Linked DNA regions of Homo sapiens. The gene in region 4 interacts genetically with the main gene of each other region. Each region holds a gene or a part of one and is shown on either strand. Other genes may lie near its edges.

Region 1 (3,099 bases), on a different chromosome or scaffold from region 4:
TTTTTTAATTAAAAATATCACTATCATTTATGCCAGTGTTCCACTACTCTACAAAGATATGCATATTCTTTTAGAAAGTAGCATTAGTATTGCAGCTAGCCACAATAATTTAGTTGAAATTTAAATCACAATATTTAGCCCCTCTAAAAATGCAATACTTACATCCCTATATATAACTACATATCTATATTCTCTCTATATAGTATCCTGTATGTTATTTATCCACTATACATCTCTATATAGCTAATATGCTATATATTACTATATACAGTGATAATATAAATATACACACATTTTATGCATTATATATATAACTATACGGTAATACTATATGTATGTAATATATAGTAAGTGTGCCATAAAGTGTCACCTACCTTGGCTTCCAATATCAGAGACTTCTACTCCAGTGTCCATTTTTATACCATCAAGAATGATAGCTTGATCACCACCGCCTTCATCATCTTCCTTCTCAGAGTCTTCAAGATCACCCCAGGAGTTTTCTACTCCCTCTCCAATTTGGGCAGTTCCAGGAGTCCATAGCACAGGTGTAGAAACACTTAACAAGTTAAGAAAACTGAGTAACAAAAATATTGCTATTTGATGAACTGTTGAAGATGAGAATGAAAGTTTTCTTCTTGTAAGATTGATTCAAGTGTGCCCCAAGTTCCTAGGGGAAAAAAAACTTAATATAGCTACACTATGGATGGCTGAACAATGAAGAAGAAAAAAAACTCAGGCAAGATTTTATGGATGCAATTAATAAGAAATGTGAAGAGACAGATTCTCTCAACATTTTAGTTATAGTACTAAATTAAATTGGTCCTTAAAATCTGTTTTTTCCAGGATAACTGAATAGAAGCTGAATGTTATACCATCAACAGAATATGACTCACATCTCTATCTTGTATTTTAAGTGTTTTCTCTAACAAAGTACAGTGTTTACAAAAACTAATTTCAGTATACACATCCTTCATATAGCCTAATATTATAATGCCAAGTGTTATGAATCTTGTTACTGCAAAAACCACCAAATAAAGATACACTTCTGAAGGAGGTTCTGCTTCAGCAATGATTTCTTCTGCTTTTTCTTCTACATCCGAGGTATCAATAGGGGCCTTTTCCATTTTAAATGCTGTGATCCTTTGATTTGCTATAGACTCTGCAAAACCAAACTTTCCACCTTCTTTCCTGTATGTGGGGGTTTTTTTGGTGGGAAGGAAGGGGGAGGAAGGTAACAGATTGGATAGAAGACAGGAAGGGAAAAAAACTATTATTTTATCCTTTGGTGGATGAAAAATATTGGAAGAGAGTTAGTTTATCTAACTTAACCTCACCAATTTATTATGCCTAACAAGAGTAAATAGTTAGCATAATCATTTATTAAACCACGTGCCAGACCATGTGCTAGGTGCTTAAAATATACTATTCTCTAACCCTCAAATCAGCCCTACCAGGTAGTGTTAATATCCCATATTATAGAAGAGGACACTGAAATGCTGGGTTATGTATCTTGCTTAAGATAGCACAGTAAGAGGTAGAGATGGAAATCAACCTGTTTCCTTCCATTAATTTGAGTTACTAGATTATTTTTATCCTAAGAAAATGTTAACTGCTAAAGAAAAATCTTATGTCTCCAGGCACGGTGGCTCACACCTGTAATCCTAATATTTTGGGAGGCCCAGGCGGGTGGATCACCTGAGGTCAGGAGTTTGAGACCGGCCTGGCCAAAACGGCGAAACCCCATCCCTACTAAAAATATAAAAATTAGCCGGGCATGGTGGTATGCATCTGTAATCTCAGCTATTTGGGAGGCTGAGGCAGGAGAATCACTTGAAGCCATGAGGCGGAGGCTGCAGTGAGCTGAGATTGCACAAATGCACTATAGCCTAGGTGACAGAGTGAGAAGTGAGACTTCATCTCAAAAAACAAACAAAAATCTTATATGATTTTTCAATATAGGTTACATTTAAATTGCAGAAAATATAACAAGTCCAATTTTCTAAAAACACATTAAATAGTATACTCAATTCAGATTAACAAATAAGGAAAGATCAAGTGTGAAATTTATATGGTTGCCCTCGTTCAAGGAAGATCCTTAAGAAAAAAAATATATTAAAAGACCATTTAGGGCCATTTCCTGTTCCCTGTGTTGTATCTTGGAGTCTGGATTAATGAAGACCTCTTGCTCTTAGGAGGGTCTTTCCTCTTTATTGTTTTAGAATTCTGGACTTGACCCAGACTTAAATTCCCATCTGTGATGCATTTTGCAATAAGTGGGTTTGATGCCAGCACTTTGAAAGATATCCCTCATAAAACAAAAGGACAAGAATCACCAGCTCCCACACAAAGTAAAAAACGTGAACCTAATTTTAGCAGTGTTAATAAGGAGCAACTATCCACAAGTCACTGCATCAATAATGCTTGTGTTATAACATCCTCTCCTCCCTAAGGCACAGGAGCAAGTGACACATACTTGTCTGGGAACCAGTTTCATTAATACTTTTATTGTATCCGTCCAAAGATGAGTAGCAATATCTGTTACCAGTTTCACTACCTTTCGGAGTTTTGGGTAACATAACTATACCATGGTATTTACACTTTTTAATGAGTCAATTTTAATTGAAATTGCCATTCTAACTTTGTATGTGAAATCAAGTTCATGCATAATAAAGCTTGCTTATACTAAAAAAAATAATAAAAATTTAAAAAATGAAAATAAAAGACCACTTAGTTCTGGAAAAGTTACTTACCTTACTTTTTGGTCATTCTCCAAAGCTTTCAATATTAGCTCTGTAATTTCTGCTACTTTCACACCAGCGATTTTACTGCATCTCAGAACCTATTTATAAAAGTGAATTCTGTTGTTTAAAGACAATAAACCAAATAGTTTTCTCTAATGAAACTAAAACCATGAAATTTTTCTACCTTTATAATTTAAGCCTGACTTTTCCAAACATGAATACAATGTAAACACAGATTAAGGCAAGATGTGAAAGTTGTTTTAAGATATGTGAAGGACTGTCACATCAAGGGAACAGACATAAAAACTTTCTTATACAACAGTATAAAAGATACCACAGAAGAGGCCACAGACACATA
Region 2 (4,266 bases), on a different chromosome or scaffold from region 4:
GGCGCCTGTAATTCCAGCTGCTACGGAGGCTGAGGCGGAGAATCACTTGAACCCGGGAGGCAGACGTTGCAGTGAGCCGAGATCGCGCCGTTGCACTCCAGTCTGAGCGACAAAGCAAGACTCCGTCTCAAAAAAAAGAAGAAAGAAAGTATCCGACTTGGTCTTGGGCTCTTCTCACTATAATCCAACTATATTCTCTTACGAAATGGCAGAATTAATCTTCCCTCCTTGTGACACCCCTGTAGTTATACATGCCTCTGGCACTTACAATCATTTTTTCTAATTGTGTTTAACGGTTCTAGCACATTACTTTGTAACTTTAGAATAGAGATTGTGTCTGATTCCTGTGTATTAAGGTCCGACCTTTTTTATTTTTATTTATTTATTTTTTAGACAGAGTCTCGCTCTGTCGCCCAGGCTGGAGTGCAGCGGTCCGATCTCGGCTCACTGCAACCTCCGCCTCCCGGGTTCAAGCGATTCTCCTGCCTCAGCCTCCCGAGTGGCTGGGATTACAGGCATGCATCACCACTCCCGGCTAATTTTTTTGTATTTTTAGTAAAGACTGGGTTTCACCATGTTGGCCAGGCTGGTCTCGAACTCCTGACCATGTGATCCGCCTGCCTCGGCCTCTCAAAGTGCTGGGATTACAGGCGTGAGCCACCGCACCCAGCCGATCTGACCTTTTTTTTTTTTTTTTTTTTTTTTTGAGACGGAATCTCGCTCTATTGCCCAGGCTGGAGTGCAGTGGCGCGATCTCGGCTCACTGCAAGCTCCGCCTCCTGGGTTCACGCCATTCTCCTGCCTCAGCCTCCCAAGTAGCTGGGACTACAGGCGCCCGCCACCGCGCCTGGCTAATTTTTTTGTATTTTTAGTAGAGACGGAGTTTCACTGGGTTAGCCAGAATGGTTTCGATCTCCTGACCTCGTGATCCACCCGTCTCGGCCTCCCAAAGTGCTAGGATTACAGCGTGAGCCAGCGCGCCCAGCCCGATCTGACCTTTTTTAAATGAAGACGTATTCAGGAAGGAAATATCTACAAGTAAGACAAAATTAAGTAAGAACCCAATGTACGAACATTCACTTCTCTAACAAAGGAAAGACACAAAACAAGAAACTAATAAGGCGGAGAAAGGAATTGAGATTGGGGGAAACAGCATCTCCTTCCTCCCTGCACACTCGGCAGGTTCCCTGGAAAGTTCTAGAAGGGATTCAGAAGTGGCTGGTGACATCACTGTGGCTCCGTGGCGCCCACTACAGCAGCCAAACGACACGCTAGCTTTCCCGCCTCATAGAGGCTCGTGAATGGGGGTGGGGCCCTGCGAGGGGCGGGGTCACGTCACTTCCTGTGCGGGACGCGCTGCAGCTGGAGAGGAAAGGCAGAGCGAGGAGGGGCGAGGCCAAGAAAGCGCGCGTTTCTGGGAGGGGAGGAGCCTGGCTAAGGAGCGCCGCGTCACATCCGGTAGAGTTAGAGCCCGTGCGGAGGCGGTGCGGAGCATTTCGGCTCTGAGCGGCTGGGCGACCGGCGCGTCGTGCGGGGCTGCGGCGGAGCCTCCTTAAGGAAGGTGCAAGAGGTTGGCAGCTTCGATTGAAGCACATCGACCGGCGACAGCAGCCAGGAGTCATGAGCGACAGCGGCGAGCAGAACTACGGCGAGCGGGTACGTAGAGCTGCGGTAGGGGGTGGCTGTGTGGTCCTAGCTCCTTGCATCTTTTTCTAGGCCCGTCGGCCTCGGGCCAGGAGGCAGGGGCGTTTTAGGCTCCGAAGTCTGAAGCCGGGAGGGCAGGCAAGGGAGACAGCATTTAACCAAAAAAAGCCTTTGTGGATAGTGCCTTAGTGCCTTTGGTCGTGAAGGAGGGAGGCCCCCGGCGGGTTTATGTGGCTTCTGCCCGAGACGGCCGTTTTTCCCGTTATAAGAGGGGGAAGATGAAAATGGCCGCTGCGTCCCCGCGGTGTTGGGGGAGGGGAGCGATATCTTATTTCGGCGTTGCTCTCCTGCGAAGGTCCGCCGCAGCCATCTTGGGCTGGCGGGCTGGGCGAGCTGCCAGAGGCACAAAATGGCGGAGAAGCCGCGCGGCAACGCGGACCCGACCCGCAGCGGGCCGCGCTTCGTAAGGCCGCGTGGTGGGGTGCAAGGGGACAGACGACGTTCTTTTGGGTCTTTGGGCCGGTGTTTAGGTTAACGAAGGACCGTCTTTGCCTCCACGGAAAGGACGGAGTCTGGGATGTCTTTGGGGCCTCTTAAGATGGAAACTAATCCAAGGCCGACTAAGTTCTGGGCCCGTTAGGTGGAGGGGATTGCGTGAGGGCTTTGTGTTTGGCCTAAATGAAGCGCTTTTCTCTGATGCCGAAAGGGCTTCCCAGGCAAAAATCTGTATCAGTATTCTATTAGGACAGACCACAAAGTCGTTAAGATGATTTTGTGGACATCGCATTTCCACGGGATTGTGAAGGAGAAATTGGCGGGCAACCATTTACGGCGCCGTTATTTCCTTTGTTTTGAGGCGTTCTAATACTTAGAACCACAGCGTGTGTTGGCTACAGTTTTCTTTCCCTTAAGTTTCCACCTCTTAAAGGTGTTCAGTGAGGGTTGATTGAATTGCGGGAACAAGACAGTTCTAGGGTTTAAACAGCATACGTAGCTGGTCTGTGGGGCTCTGGGTATTGGATTCGGAAAGCATTGAATGATGCGAACATACGAGGCTTGCTAGAATTAAGAGGAATCTGTTAGAAGGGTGATAGAAAAGCACCATAGAAATTGATTTTTGAGGCTGTGGGAATAATTTGTGCTTTTTTAAAAAAAAAAAACAATTTGTTACCTAAGTTTCCCCTTGTTGGTAAAGCTACCTTAAGATCTGAATATGATTTATCAGGTAAATAAGACTATTAAATGTCTTAGCAAACTTTTGATTAAGATTTTATATGATTCCTCAGAGTATTTTAGGAAGAAATTTTCAGTGATGAAGCGTGAGTTTCCTGCGTAATTTTGGAGCCCAAACTGCTTAATTTGGTTTGAACTAATCAAGCCTTGCGTTTACATACTCGGATGAGCATAGAGTTTTTAGTTTTTGATGTTTTTCCCGAAGCCGATTGACTCCAATGTCACGAGTGTTTTAGATTTTTTTTTAAGTTCTTGCTTTCTTGGGTAAGAAAGTTGGGATTGAGCTCAAAAGTTGTTAAAAAGTCGTGACTTCTGATCATTGGCAGTTGAATCTGTTATAACAGTCATTGGTGTTTGGACTGCAAAGTAAGCGATTTTAAAGTCTTTTGTTATTAAACAGAAAAATTCAATTATTGGGTACCTTTCTACTCTTCAAAAATACTAAATGACTGGCTTCTGACTAGAGCTCTCGATTGAATACACGTGAAGAATGCTTGAGAATGGAAAATTGCCCAGAGTTCATTAGTATATTTTACGTGAGAAGGGAAACAATTGAAACTAGGTTCCAGTTTGAGACTCGGCTCAAGAGAAATTTGAAATTTTCTGATGGGTTATCTTTTTACTAGTAAAAGTACACTGTGTTTTTCGCAATCTTTGAATTGTAGAGGGAGGTTAACTTAATGTGTTAAAAATTGAGTTTTTTTTCTTACATAAGAGTCTTCGCTTTCTGGCCGAGATCTCTAAACTTTTACGTTGTGAAATACTTCCATATTGTTGTGTTTGGTGTTTGCGTGTTTGTGTTCCAATTGGAACCTTTAAGGGTTGGAATACACCTGAATCAAACACGTGTCTAGGCTTCCAAAGCAAGCTTGGGAAAACCATAAAGCTCAATGGAACAGCTTGATCTTAGACATGCCTGTGGTGTAAATGATGCTTCTCTGGAGCCAGAAAAATGAGTGTTATTCAACTCCAGGCTTCTGAACTGGGTCTTAATGTAAATCACTAATCTCTTCAAATCAGTGGAATTCTCCCTTATTTATCTGTCTCTAATCCAGACAACCCCACCCCTCTGTGCCCCACCTTTTCCAGTGACTGTAGGAGTTTGTTGTTGTGTCCCTCCCCTTTAAGGTTGGGTGTGTGGGATAAATTATTCTCAGTTTGATCACTCAATAGAATACATTTGGGTGAATATAATGACATTTAAAGAACTGGTGTGTCCCTCATCCCTCGTTGGTCTGTGGGATTTATTTTTTCCCCCCTCTCAAAGGTAATAGATTAACACTAAAATCTGTCTATAGGGGTCTAATTAGCAGGCTTAACCTGATCTGGCCAAACCACTTTCAAAAGTAAGATCTCGTTTTCATCTCCGGATTCAAGACTCTTCCCCCA
Region 3 (3,500 bases), on a different chromosome or scaffold from region 4:
ACTGCACTCCAACCTGGGGGACAGAGCGAGACTGTGTCTCAGAAAAAGACAAAAAAAAAAAAAAGATAATGTGGCCAGGTGCAGTGACACACACCTGTAATCCCGGCTCTTTAGGAGGCCAAGGCAGGAGGATTGCTTGAGCCCAGCAGTTTGAGAGCAGTGTGGGCAACATAGTGAAACCCCATCACTACAAAAAATTTAAAAATTAGCAAGGCATGGTGGCACATGCCTGTGGTCCCAGCTACTTGGGAGGCTGAGGTGAGAGGATCACTTGAGCCTAGGAGGTCGAGGCTGCAGTGAGCTGTGATCACACCACTGCACACTAGCCTTGGGGACAGTAAGACCCTGTCACACACACAAAAAAGATAATCTGGCAAAATTAATATGAGCAGCATTTTTCACTCGAAGGGAAACCTAAATAAGCAATAAGCAAGTTATGTTTTAATCATAAGACTTACTTGGAAAATTAAGTATAAGACCATAGTAAGCTACAGATGCTTCTCAGATACTTCCCGATAAACTCATCATAAATAAAAAATACCATTAAGTAAAAAATGATGCTTTTTTTGTTGTTGTTTTTTTGAGATGGAGTTTCGCTCTTGTTGCCCAGGCTGGAGTGCAGTGCAACTGCAATCTCTGCCTCCTGGGTTCAAGCGATTCTCCTGCTCAGCCTCTCGAGTGGCTGGGATTACAGGCGTCTGCCACCACGCCCAGCTAATATTTGTATTTTAGTAGATACAGGGTTTCACCTTGTTGGCCAGGCTGGTCTCAAACTCCTGACTTCGGTTGATCCACCCGCCTCGGCCTCCCAAAGTGTTGGGATTACACATGTGAGCCACCACGCCCAGCCAAAAATGCATTTTAATATAACCTCAATAAACCTGTTGTAAAGGTGAAAAATCATTGGTGGACCATTTTAAATTAGCGGCTGTCTACTATTTTGCACTCACTAGTTGGCAAAGCGTTAATTTTAGGAAGTGTTAACATGCCATTGTTGGGAGTGACTATCAGAGCTTTGAAATTATAGTTGGGTGGGGGGTTGTACAAAGGATTTCTGTAAGATAACTTTCATTAATCATATACTTGAGGAAATACTGGAAACTTTTATATCCATGAGTTATTAAACAGTTTTTAGGATAACTTTATTAATAAAAGAGAATCTCAGCTTAATACTTTCAAATTGTTTGTTAACACTCTGTTCAGCAGTAAAGAGCCATTCTACCATGAAAAAAAGTTAATCTTGTTCATTGCTGAATTTCTATCCCCTAGATGGGGACTCTGCACCTGAGGTATATAATAATGTTTGTTGAACAGGTAGCTGCAGGTGTAAACACAAACATTATTCTGGTGTTAGAATGTTATCCAGGTTGTAAGTGAAAACCACTCACCTGTTTCTTGAGCAGAGGTTTTAACATTGAAATGTGCAGAGCCTCGCTGATAGGAATGGATGTAGGTCTGCTAAAATTTAACCTTGCTTACATTGCTGTTGAAATTGGGATGCAAGCTGTCCAAGCACATTGTGTTAAACTTTTAAGTTTATAGTCATTTATCCGTTATTCACTTTTTTTTTTTTTTTTTTGAGACGGAGTCTTGCTCTGTTGCCCAGGCCGGAGTGCAGTTGTGCAGTCTCGGCTCACTGCAACCTCCATCTCCTGGGTTCAAGCGATTCTCCTGCCTCAGCTTCCCGAGTAGCTGGGATTACAGGCGTGCGCTACCACGCCTGGCTAATTTTTATATTTTTGGTAGAGACGAGGTTTCACCATGTTGGTCAGGCTGGTCTCGAACTCCTGACTTTGTGATCTGCCTGCCTCAGCCTCCCAAAATGTTGGGATTAAAGGTGTGAGCCACTGCGCCCAGCCAGTTGTTCAGTCTTTATCTCTGCTAAATATTTGGAATATTCTAAATTACATGTTTGTTTAGAATGCTTTGTTATACAGAAGTATTTACTATTCTTAAATTATAGCCAGTTGTTTGGGGAAGAAGATGCTGATCAAGAAGTATCTCCTGACAGAGCTGACCCTGAAGCTGCCTGTGAGTAAATTATTTGGCATATGTTTTATCAGATACTATTATCTTTATTTTGTTGATTTAATTTTGGTAGCTTAAGGGAAAAAAATTGCTATATGTGCTAGGTAATGTGTGTTTAACATGTGTTTTTTTTTTGTTTTTTTTTTTTTTTTTTTTTTTTGTCTCAGAGGTGGAGTTTCTCTCTTATTGCCCAGGCTGGAGTACAATGGTATAATCTCGGCTCACTGCAACCTCCGCCTTCTGGGTTCAAATGATTCTCCTGCCTCAGGCTCCTGAGTAGCTGGGATTACAGGCACCTGCCACCGCGCCCAGCTAATTTTTGTATATTTAGTAGAGACAGGGTTTCACCATGTTAGCCAGGCTGGTCTCGAACTCTTGACCTGAGGTGATCCACCCGCCTTGGCCTCCCAAAGTGCTGGGACAGGCGTAAGCAACCGTGCCTATCCAAAACAATGTTTTACAAAAAAAATATGATTCCGTTTTACTGATGAGGAAATCAAGGTTAAGAGAAATTTCACAAGTCTAGTAAATAGAGCTGCGAGTTGTTCCTAGATCTCATGACTGGTCTGTGCTTTGAACTGTTATATGTGTAGCTTTCAGAAACTAAGTTACAACAGGCCAGGCAAGGTGGCTCACGCCCGTAGTCCCAGCATTTTGGGAGGCTGAAGCAGCTGGATTGCATGAGGTCAGGAGTTTGAGACCAGCCTGGCCAACATGGCAAAACCCTGTCTCTACAAAAAATATAAAAATTAGCCAGGCATGGTGGTGCATACCTGTAGTCCCAACTACTTGTGAGGTTGAGACGGGAAGATGGCTTGAGCCCAAGAGGTAGAAGCTACAGTGAGCCGAGATCTTAACACTGCACTCCAGCCTGGGCAACAGAGTGAGACTTTGTCTCCAAAAACAAGAAAGAAAGAAACTGGGATACAAAAAGATGCTGATGAATGTGTTATTTTCTTATTCCTTGAACTCAGAATGTGTTGCATTTGGGGATTTCCATGAGTGACTTTCTTTTTATTCCCAAAGGTGAGTGAAAAGAGTTCAGTTCTACATTTATTACGGTTGAAAATAAAATAATGATCGTTTTATAGGGGAACCAACGGAAGCCGAAGCCAGAGCTAGAGCATCTAATGAAGATGGTGACATTAAACGTATTTCTACTAAGGAATGGGCTAAATCAACTGGATATGATCCAGTTAAACTTTTTACCAAGGTTAGATTTACTTTTTTTATAATCATGGATAGATGTATTGTTGTGCATAGATGTATTGTTCTAGTTCTGCTTGTTTTAAAATAGTCCATAAAATTGAATTAAGCTTCTATGTATATGCCTTGTGATGTCCTAATAAAATGATTGATGCAGTCAGGATATGCAAGTTTTAAAATGTTACCATCTACACTAAATCTATCAGTATAACATCTAAATAGGAGGTAAAATGAGAGGTGGCTTGTATACCTTCTTGGTTGTCTTT
Region 4 (3,500 bases):
TTCCGCTGTGGGCCTCTTCAAGTAGAGACAACTTTCCCCCCGAGTTCATATATAGGTATGCGGTGAGTGTCTTTCTTGGTCCGCATTTCTCTGCCTTCCATTGTTACAGCTCCAGCTCCTTTAAAGCCCTTGTGATCTTATTATATCATCTGATACCTCCTTTGTTGCTATTCGACCCCCTCCCCCCACACCTGTATTCGTTGATGATTTGAACACCTAGCTAATGGTCTTGTGTACTGGCGCTATTGTTGTTATTGTTCTTGGCCTCTGCAAGATCCAAGTTGATAATTTATCCCCTATCCTGGACTTATGATTCTTTTGTTTGCTTGTTTTCCATGATCATTTTTCTATCTGTATATAGCCAGACACTATCTTTTTAATTTTTATTATTTGGACTACTGCCCACACCTCTTAAGTATCCCTCCTGCTTCCATTCTTACTCTCATATAGTCTTTTCACTACATAACAGCCAGAGTTCTCTTTGTGTATTGAATCACATCAGTCTTCTGGTCAGAACCCTCTAGTGGGTTTTTATCATATGTAGACTTAAATCCAAACTCATGTTGTGGCCTCTGAAGCCATATGTGCTCATCATTTCTATTTTATCTTCTGCTCCATTCCGGCTCATTCACTTGCTCTGGTCACATGGATCTTATTCTCTCTTTTAGCACACCACATTTATTCCTTCTCAGGATCTTCATTTCACTAGAATCCAACTTACTTTGTCTTACTTGAAATGCCATCTCCTCAAAAAGGCTTCCCTGGCCACCCAAATTGAAGTACCTCTCCCCTAATCACACTTGATTTCATTTCTCTATTTCATTTCCAGTGTTTTGGCATCAGATGTTATCTTTTTAATGTCTGTATTCATTGTCCGTCTCCTCCTATTAAAAATAAGCTCTTCGAGGACAGGGTTTTTGACTTCTTTGTTCACTACTGGTTCCCCAGGGCTGTACACATAGTAAGTGTTAAATAAATATTTGTTGATTGAATGAATAAGAAGTAATCAAGGAATGTGCCAAAAGAAATAGAAATTGAGGTGGGTCTTGAATGATGACTTGGCTTTGGCTACATGGCATGTGCATGAGAAGGGTGCACCAGGCAGGGCTAGCAGAGTGAGAAAAATGAGAAGCTACAGAGCATGACTGCGTGGTCATGGGATATTGAATAATCCAGTGGACTGGAGCCGAGGACTCATTTTGGTGTAGTAATAATATACTGGGCTTTCCCAGGCTCCCTGTCACAGTGCTTCTGTGGTGCTCAAGTTTTGCCCTTGTTGGAGCCCTCATTTTATCATTTATTTCATGTGTTTAACTTACATAGTAGTGAATATAATAATTGTGGTGTCTTTTTCCTTAACTGAATTAAAGGGGACAATTAGGTCCTAGCTTATTTTCCAGAACACTTAATAAATAATTGTTCTGTTATGTATAATTGAAAAGTAGTTATTGGCCAGGCGCAGTGGGTCATGCCATCTGCAATCCTAGCACTTTGAGAGGCCAAGGTGGGAGGATCACCTGAGGTCAGGAGTTCGAGACCAGCGTGGCCAACATGGTGAAACTCTGTCTCTACTACAAATACCAAAATCAGCTGGGCATGTTGGCAGGCACCTGTAATCCCTGCTACTCAGGAGGCTGAAGCAGGAGAATCGCATGAACCTGGGAGGCAGAGGTTATAGTGAGCCGAGATGGCACTGCTGCACTCCAGCCTGGGCAACAGAGTGAGATTCCATCTCAAAAAAATAAAAAAAGAAGAAAAAAAAAGAAAGGTAGTTACCAGATATTGAGGAAACCTTGCATGTTCATACTAAGGATGTTGAATATTGATTGTATGGATTAGAACAATGTTTAGAAAAAAATCAGATATTAATATGAAGGAACAAAAATGGTCTCATGAAAAGGAGCTGAAAGGCTTTCTAGTTAGTTCTAGATATAGAACCAAGGGAGGATATAGGTCTGAATGAACTAGACTGGGGATGGAAAAAATCAGAAGTTGTTACTGTAAAAGAATGAAGAGAAACTAGATGGTCACTAGAGGGAGCAGCAAAGTCAAGCAAAGTGAGACCTGCTCTTTCTTATAGATGAAGTGAACTTGCTAAGGCATATGTGAGGGAGTAAGAATTTAAGTCTTGGGAGGATATTTAAGGAAGTCATAGAGAATGCAATTGAAACCGTAAGTGAAAAATTAAAGTAGGCAATGATATTTCATTTTTGGCACTAAGGCACTAACTACACTTTGTTCCTTTTAACTTGGTTTCTTTAACATATTTATTTGAATTTTCCTTATGAGAAGTTTCTCTTATTTTTGTATTCTGCTTTGTATTTGAGTTATCTTAAAAGTTCATCTGCTATTCAGCAATTGTACTTTTATCTCAGGGAAATGAAATCTTATGTTCACATAAAAACCTCTTCAAGAATGCTTATAATACCTTCATTTGAAATAGCCCAAACTGGAAACAACCCAAGTGTTCTTCAATGAGTGAATAAATAAATTATGATACATTCATACCATGGAAAACTATTAGTAATAAAGAAATGAGCTTATATACAACTTAGATGAATCTTGAGGGAATTCTGCTGAGTAAAAAATGACAATCTCAAAACAATACATATTATATGATTCTATTATACTCTTGAAATGACAAAATTATAGAGATGGAGAACCAGATCAGTGGTTGCCAAAGATTAGGGAGCTGAGGGAGGGGAGCAGGGTGCAAAAGATAGATGGGGGTGGTTATAAAATCATGAGAGATCCTTGTGGTGACAGAACTGTTCTGCATGTTGACTGTGGTGGTGGATGTATGAACCTACATGTGACAAAACTGTATAAAATTTAATACGGAAGTAAGTGCATGAGTACAACTGAGGAAACCTGAATAAGACTAGTGGATTGTATCAATGTCAGTATCCTGTTTGTGATAATCTACTGTAGTTGTATATGATTTTATCTTTGGGGGAATTTGGATATATGCTATCTCTTTGTATTATTTCTTGTAACTGTATGGGAGTCTGTAGTTAACTTCAAAGAAAAAGTTTAATTAAATTAAAAAAACAGGTAAAATAAATTTTAATAGTATGTTATTTAATCCAAAGTATCTAAAATATTATATTAACTTGTAACCAGTAAAAAATGTTAATAAGAAACATCTTATACAGATAAGAGTCATCTGTAACCACAGTAATAAAGTGGCACTTTCTTATGGTGTTTTTTTTTTATTCCAATTAAATTGAATTAGGAACCATAACAAATATTACAGGGGACCTGATAAGTCTTCCACTTAACTTAAAACTCTACTATTTTTTTCTTGTAGCTTTCTACCAAATCCTTCCCACCTTGCATGCGTCAGTTACATAAAGCCTTGCGGGAAAATCACCATCTTCGTCATGGAGGCCGAATGCAGTATGGCCTATTTCTGAAGGGCATTGGTTTAACTTTGGAACAGGCATTGCAGTTCTGGAAGCAAGAATTTATCAAAGGAAAGATGGATCCAGACAAGGTAA

Evidence for each region.
Region 1: changes in PRIM2 (region 4) and EXOSC9 together harm fitness more than expected from each alone (negative genetic interaction), as found in Homo sapiens cells (one large-scale study listed by BioGRID).
Region 2: changes in PRIM2 (region 4) and TRA2B together harm fitness more than expected from each alone (negative genetic interaction), as found in Homo sapiens cells (one large-scale study listed by BioGRID).
Region 3: changes in PRIM2 (region 4) and UBA2 together harm fitness more than expected from each alone (negative genetic interaction), as found in Homo sapiens cells (one large-scale study listed by BioGRID).

What each region holds. Positions count from the first base shown.
Region 1 is NC_000004.12:121,811,323-121,814,421, reverse strand, and holds part of EXOSC9 (exosome complex component RRP45), read right to left. Parts: intron 2,840-3,099; coding exon 2,751-2,839; intron 1,189-2,750; coding exon 1,042-1,188; intron 557-1,041; coding exon 375-556; intron 1-374. UniProt on the Homo sapiens protein: Non-catalytic component of the RNA exosome complex which has 3'->5' exoribonuclease activity and participates in a multitude of cellular RNA processing and degradation events.
Region 2 is NC_000003.12:185,935,215-185,939,480, reverse strand, and holds the start of TRA2B (transformer-2 protein homolog beta), read left to right. Parts: upstream 1-1,466; 5' UTR 1,467-1,620; coding exon 1,621-1,656; intron 1,657-4,266. UniProt on the Homo sapiens protein: Sequence-specific RNA-binding protein which participates in the control of pre-mRNA splicing. Can either activate or suppress exon inclusion. Acts additively with RBMX to promote exon 7 inclusion of the survival motor neuron SMN2.
Region 3 is NC_000019.10:34,441,881-34,445,380, forward strand, and holds part of UBA2 (SUMO-activating enzyme subunit 2), read left to right. Parts: intron 1-1,963; coding exon 1,964-2,031; intron 2,032-3,119; coding exon 3,120-3,241; intron 3,242-3,500. UniProt on the Homo sapiens protein: The heterodimer acts as an E1 ligase for SUMO1, SUMO2, SUMO3, and probably SUMO4. It mediates ATP-dependent activation of SUMO proteins followed by formation of a thioester bond between a SUMO protein and a conserved active site cysteine residue on UBA2/SAE2.
Region 4 is NC_000006.12:57,534,130-57,537,629, forward strand, and holds part of PRIM2 (DNA primase large subunit), read left to right. Parts: intron 1-3,310; coding exon 3,311-3,496; intron 3,497-3,500. UniProt on the Homo sapiens protein: Regulatory subunit of the DNA primase complex and component of the DNA polymerase alpha complex (also known as the alpha DNA polymerase-primase complex) which play an essential role in the initiation of DNA synthesis.